Linked DNA regions of Homo sapiens. The protein of the gene in region 2 purifies or fractionates together with the protein of the main gene of each other region. This does not show direct contact. Each region holds a gene or a part of one and is shown on either strand. Other genes may lie near its edges.

Evidence for each region.
Region 1: the proteins of NECAP1 (region 2) and CACTIN purify together in Homo sapiens (affinity purification with mass spectrometry; one large-scale study listed by BioGRID and IntAct). This does not show direct contact.

Annotation. Positions count from the first base shown.
Region 1 is NC_000019.10:3,616,671-3,620,321, forward strand, and holds part of CACTIN (splicing factor Cactin), read right to left. Parts: intron 3,603-3,651; coding exon 3,457-3,602; intron 2,573-3,456; coding exon 2,410-2,572; intron 2,320-2,409; coding exon 2,205-2,319; intron 1,246-2,204; coding exon of another isoform or gene 1,160-1,245; exon of another isoform or gene 1-1,159. UniProt on the Homo sapiens protein: Plays a role in pre-mRNA splicing by facilitating excision of a subset of introns. Required for the splicing of CDCA5/Sororin, a regulator of sister chromatid cohesion. Involved in the regulation of innate immune response.
Region 2 is NC_000012.12:8,095,177-8,098,381, reverse strand, and holds the end of NECAP1 (adaptin ear-binding coat-associated protein 1), read right to left. Parts: intron 2,782-3,205; coding exon 2,679-2,781; intron 2,341-2,678; coding exon 2,292-2,340; 3' UTR 501-2,291; downstream 1-500. UniProt on the Homo sapiens protein: Involved in endocytosis.

The DNA.
Region 1 (3,651 bases), on a different chromosome or scaffold from region 2:
AATAAAAAAACTTTAATTTTGTAAAAATTAAAAAGAAAAAGCATGCAGTCACTCATGCCTTTAATCCTAGCCCTTCTGGAGGTGAGGCAGGAGGATTGCTTGAGGCCAGGAGTTCAAGACTAGCCTGGGCAACACAGTGAGACCCCATCTCTACAAAAAATTTTCAGAAGTGGCTGGGCACAGTGGCTCACTTCTGTAATCCCAGCACTTTGGGAGGCTGAGGTGGGAGGATCATGAGGTCAAGAGATTGAGACCATCCTGGCCAACATGGTGAAACCCTGTCTCCTTAAAAATACAAAAATTAGCTGGGCGTGATGGCGCGCGTCTGTAATCCCAGCTACTTGGGCAGCTGAGGCAGGAGAATCGCTTGAATCTGGGAGGCAGAGGTCACAGTGAGCAGAGATCGCACCACTGCACTCCAGCCTGGTGACAGAGTGAGACTCCTTCTCAAAAAATAAAATAGCTGGGTGTGATGGTGAGCGCCTGTAGTCCCAGCTTCTAGGGAGGCTGAGGTGGGAGGATCACCTGAACCCAGGAAGTCGAGGCTACAGTGAGCCTTGATCGCGCCACTCAACTCTCGCCTGGGCGACAGAGCGAGACCTTGTCTCTGAAAAATGAAAAGTAAAAGGAAAACCCCAATTAATTTAAGAAGATCCAGGACAGGGGCTCTGTGGGTCTCCAGGGGGACAGCAAAGTCAAGACCCCTCGGTTCCCTACTCCTGGAAACCATGTTGAAAGGAGAATCAGAAACAAACTCCCTCGGAAGACACCAAAGCCACCTGGGGTCCCCAACTGTAACGCGTGAGGGGAAAGGAGGGCTGAGCGACGTGGTGGAGGCAGAAGGCCATGGAAGGGATGGGAGAGGCCGGGGCCTAGGGCAGTGGGGCACGCTGGAAACGCCTCCCAGGCTTATAGGAGAGGCCGGGCCCAGGGCAACGCTGGAAACGCCTCCCAGTCTTACAGGAGAGGGCGGGGCCTAGGGCAACGCTGGAAACGCCTCCCAGGCTTCCTGCAGCCGGTGGGTAGGGTCTGCGGCTTCTGAAGGAAAATGTACTGCACCCAGAAGTCTTTGCCCAGCCCCGCTGCCACCAGCAGGAGCACACCAAGACCCTTAACGGACACACCTCTGATGCTGGAGAACTGCCCTGCCTCTCTGAGGTTACGGGAGAATGTGCCCCACGGAGGAGACCACTGGAGGGACAGGATGGCTGAGTGAACTCCACCTCCGGGGAACACAAAGCTCCACTGAAAAAGAGGAAAGCCACAGGCTCTTTCCTAGGAAGGACCTGCCACAGACCACGCTGAGGGCTGCAAATGACACTGACCCAGCCTCCTGGGATCCTCGGCCACCATGATGGCACCCAAGGCCTGAGAGGGAGGGCAGGGGAAGGACCGGGTCTATCGACAGGGATGCGTGGCCCATGAGAGCCAGGCACTGTTACAGCAGCCGCTGGGGCGTGGATTTTGGCGGGGAGGGGGCAGGGCTGCTGTGGTTGGCTTTTAGACCGGGGGGGGGGGGGGTCTCATCTAGGGCAATTCTGCCCCCAGGGGACTCTGGGCAACGTCTGGGGACATCTGCGGTTGTCAGGACTAGGGGTGCTCCTGACCCTGGGTGGAGGCCAGGGACGTTGCTCAGCACCCAGCAGTGTCCAGGACGGCCCCACCCTAGGGAACGGCCCAGCCCGCATGTCCGCAGTGCTCAGGGTAGACGCTTTAGAGCATCCCCGGTGACCATGTGTGTGCAACCACACGGAGGGGGGGGAAACGTGATTTTAAAAGCCCATCAGGTTGGAGGGGCACGAACTGACGCACGGGACAGGTAGCGCCCTGAAGCTGGGCTGCACGGCCTTCAGGCCAGGTGGAGCGAGACTTGCTGTCAAACAGGCAGAGCCACTGAGAGCACTGAAACCTGAGCGGAAAGCCCCGTGGCTCCCATAAGGCCGGCACCGCCGAGTCAGCGTTAACGGGACGCTGGGTCTGGACGCTGCTGGCCCTGCACCCCAGACAGAGGCCCGCCCCACTCATCCCTCCCAGGGCCTACTGCCCGCTGCTGCCCCCTGGTGGCTCGGCCCAGAAGGGGAGGCCCCAGTTGGGGAAACCGAGGCCTGCAGAGAGCACCAGGCCCCACAGCAAGTCTGAGGCTTCTGGGTGAACACTGTAGCCCCCGCAGCTCCCCTGGAGCCCAGGCCCATGCCCGCCGTTACCTGGCCCCTTGCCCGAGGCCTCCAGCTTGCGGAGCTTGGAGATCTCGTCCTCGGTGATGGTGGTCATGTCCCGCCAGAAGTCGGCGTTCTTGCCCTGCTCCAGCTCCATGTAGACCTGGGGGCAGGGGGCAGGGGTCAGGACACGGGTGTGGCTGGGGTGGGGGTGAGGGTGCAGGTCAGAGGAGCATCGGGTGGGGCTGGGTACCTGGATATCCTCCAGCAGGTCCTCCATGTCGGCCACGGTGAGGCCGTTGAGGAACGTGTAGGGCTCATGCATCTCCACGGCCAGATCGTCATCCTCAGCGCTGATGTACTTGGCCAGCAGGTCGATGGGCTTGGCCCGCCCGTCCCGGATGCGGATCTTGGAACTGTGGGGAGCAGGGGAAGGTGGCATCAGAGCCTGGGCTGTGCCCTCCATGCTAAAGACCCTGCCCTTGGGGTGACCACACCAGTGGGAGCCGAGGAGGGGCCTGACCCGTTGGGGGTGGTCAGGGAAGGCTTCCTGGAGGAGGAGGAGGAGGAGGCATAAGGTAGAGTGAGCCGGGTCAGCCAAAGGGCGCAGGCCAGCAGTGCAGACAAAGTGCAAGCAGCGTGGACCCGGAGGTGGGCCAGGTGGGAGGGGCTTCCTGGAGGGCCTCTGGGATGTGCCCAGGATGGCGGCTTCTATGTGGGCTGTGATGGGGAAGAGTGGAGGAGCTGAAGCAGAGGCAGGCTGGGGGACCAGAGTAGTCACTGCCTTGCAACCACCTCCTCCCCCAGGCAGACCACTCGGGGCAGAGAGCCGGGTTTCTGTTCTGGGCCTGCAGGGGGGTACGCGTTGCAGGCGGGCCCTGGTCCAACCCAAGGGAACCCGTCACCAGGGAGGCCCGAGCTGGGAGGAGCCTGATGTCACCCGCCACGGGGCCCAAGGCAAGCAGGGACACCCCGGAGCCTCAGCTTGTCTGTAAACCAGGCGGATGGGGGTGCCACCCTCCTGGGTGGAGTGTGGGAGGGACAACTGCAGTCAGTGCAGGACTGGCGTCCAGCATGCGTGGGGTGCCGTTCACCTGGGCCCGTCTCCTCTGCACCCTGCCCAGCAGGGGAGGGCAGGAGACAGAAGCCTTGCCGCCCGGGAAGGGGTCAGGAAGGGAAGGTCCCAGGAAGTGCCGTGTGGGACCCTGAAGGGTGGGAGAGCAGTGGCTTCCAGAGTGACAGCCAGTGCCCGGCCCTGGCTCCAAGTCTGGGTCGGAGGGAGGGGGAGGCCCCAGCGCACCGCAGCTTGGCCTGCTGGAGGTGGAAGTTGTCCTCCTGCTCCTCCCATGTCTTGAAGTGCTCTGCCTCCTTCTCGCGCTGCAGCATCTCCAGCTCCTGCTCGCGCATGGCCTTCTCCCGCTCCCGCTCCAGCCGCAGCTGCTTCACCTGCAGGCACAGGAGGCTGAGGGCAGCGGGGACCGTGCGGTCTGCAGGG
Region 2 (3,205 bases):
CGTCCTCCCAGGCTCAAGTGACCCTCCCACCTCGGCCTCCCAAGTAGCTAGGACTACAGGCACATGCTGCCATGCCCAGCTAATTTTTAGATTTTTTGTAGAGATAAGATCTCGCTATACTGCCCAGGCTGGTCTTGAACTGGCTTCAACCAATCTTCCCACCTTAGCCTCTCAAAGTGCTGGAATTACAGGAGTAAACCACCAACCACATCTAGCTAATTTATCTCCTGTGGCAATCACTGAACAAGAACTCCCAAGACCTTTTCTGGTTTCCAAAGTCTGTGGTTCTGACCTTAGTTATTTCTCTTATACTGATCCCTTTCATTTCTGCTGATTACAGTTAAGATATAAGAGGTGGCCTAGATCATGAAGATAATTTGAAGCAAATTAAATTAACTGTACCAGAAAATAAATAATGAATATTCATTGATTACACAGAGTGCTCTGTCATTTTAGAACCATGAACACAGAGGTCTAGTCTCAACTTCTTAAAAGCCTTATTTCTTAATAAAGAGTGATATAAATATCCTTTATTAACTACTGGTCCACTTATATTTGGTCAATTAAATTTAAAAGGTAATCAAATAAGCAAATTAAAAGATAAAAGAGACACTTTTTTCATATTTTTAATTACCATTATTGCACCAATACAGCATACACTTTATATACATATATCTTAAACATTTTCCATTTTTCAGGAATTCAAATACATAATATATTATCATCTCAAGAATACAAAGAACACAACATGGAGGAAGATTGAGAAAATAGGTTCCCAGTATTTAGTCACTAGTGATTCCACAGACTTTCCTTTTAGTGTTTTCTATTGGAATTTTAACATGTCCTGCTATGGCTCTGCAAGAATAGAGCTGCCTGGAAAAGGAGGCAATGAAAAGAAAATGGACCCAAAGTCAGAAAAAGTGAAGAAGAGAATCCAGGAAAGTAATATATTTTGAAACTAAACATAAGGACTCCCTTCGGCCAGAGTGTACATACCCAATAGGTGCAAAAAGGAAGCAATGATATCTTCCCATTTCATCCTCAAAATTGCTCGTTTAGAAACAAAATAGAAAGTACCCATTCACCTAAGAAGCAGAACTTTTTTCACAGCATTGTAATAGGAATGGCAGGGCAGAGGGAAAGGAAAGTAGTGGGAGAACAACTTGCTTTTAAGATACCCTGGGTGACAGGTATCAAAGCCTTGGGCAAAACCTGTCACAGTAAAGCTGTGACTCTCCAACTTCCTTCACAAATGACAATATACATAATAGCAGCTTTCTATTAAAGAACTACATGAACTGAAAAGAAATGTTTATGGAAAGGGGCCAGATACCCAGGCAGCAAGGCAATGAGGATACTAAACAAGAGTTAAGTGCTTTCAACCTCTCTGCTCTACAGATCAGGTTAAAAACTCTAAACCCTTCAACTTTAGGTCAAAGAACAGGGCAAATACAAATTAATGCCATGCTTCAAATGCAGCAACCAGATGGAGCTGCAAGAAATTAAACACTCCTATAGACTATCACTTGGAAAGCACAGCCTCTTGAACCTCCTTCATTACAGATACACCCACTGATCAAAGATGTTAACACAATTCAAACTCAACAAACAGAAAAGAGTAGTGGAGGTGCCACCAACACAACCCTCTTATCATAGAAAGAGACATGTAAACACACAAGAGGGTGATGGAGCTGCACCCAGCACTGGATGTTCACTGAGCACAATAAGCCTGAAGGAGACTACACAGCAGAGACCCAGGAAATAGGTCTTTCTCCATATCTACCCCTATCAAAATTCTGAATTTGTAAACACTGAGGTCAGCCTGTCCATTTTTAGTCCTGGGTTAGTGGAGAAGGAAGTTGCAAGGTTTTTGACTCCCCTGAAATTGCTAAATAGGGCTTCACAAAGAGGCACACAAGGGTCATGAGATGATTTTGAAATAAGTTAAAGAAATTAAAAGATGAGACAAATTTTACAGATGTTAGAGGTCATTCCCCCTCAAACAGACGCTGGCCTTTTAAGCCCTGCATAGTCAGCCAAAACTATGATAAGATCCACTAGTCCCCTACCTTGGTACTACGCAGGAGATAACAGATACTTTCTTGGCTGTACAAGTAACAACACAGGGGAGTGACATAAACCAGCTTGAATGTGATGGAGAAGCTATGAAAAAGATTGTCCAGTCATTCTGGTTCTGGGGAGGAAATGGGTTCCTAACTTCCCTCACAGATTGGTGCCCTCAAGGTCATTTTTATTCCTCAAGTCTGTCCTTAATGTCCTGCCAATGCCATTCAGAACTGGACCCAGTTGGATGGCTGTGGTGCCTGGTTTGGAACAGAGCTGCAAGACAGGAGAACAGAGAAAGCCAGAGACATAATATTAGGATAACAACTCCATTCTTTACTTAATAGTTTCTAAGAAATCACTGCCTAGAATTTCCAAAACCACACTTCATGGCAATTCTACTTACAAAGGCCTGAAATATCCCACTCAAACCTCATCCTACAGCTTTTTTGTCCCCCCATTCCCAGCACTACTATATTTCCTTCACTAGAACTCTTCCAAAAGACTCTATGTGACCTGCATATCCATTGCTTCTCCAGATCAAAGATTTCAATTGACTGTACATATCTCCTACACCCTGATTGAGAGTATGCTAGTTTCACTATGCCCATTACCTGGAGGCAGTGCTGAAGTCTCCCCACAAGTCATTGCTTACAGAAACTGGAGTTGGTGCTGGTGTCGTGACAGGAGCAGGAGAATCCAAATCTAAAAGGATATCTAAACACAAGGTAAGAAAAGAAAAAAGAAAAACATAATCAAAATCTTGGAAGGGCCGGGCGCGGTGGCTCACGCCTGTAATCCCAGCACTTTGGGAGGCCGAGGCGGGTGGATCATGAGGTCAGGAGATCGAGACCATCCTGGCTAACAAGGTGAAACCCCGTCTCTACTAAAAATACAAAAAATTAGCCGGGCGCGGTGGCGGGCGCCTGTAGTCCCAGCTACTCGGGAGGCTGAGGCAGGAGAATGGCGTGAACCCGGGAAGCGGAGCTTGCAGTGAGCCGAGATTGCGCCACTGCAGTCCGCAGTCCGGCCTGGGCGACAGAGCGAGACTCCGTCTCAAAAAAAAAAAAAAAAAAAAAAAATCTTGGAGATGAGAATTTATGTTTGCACAAAAATCTGTATACAAATGCCACGGCAGCTT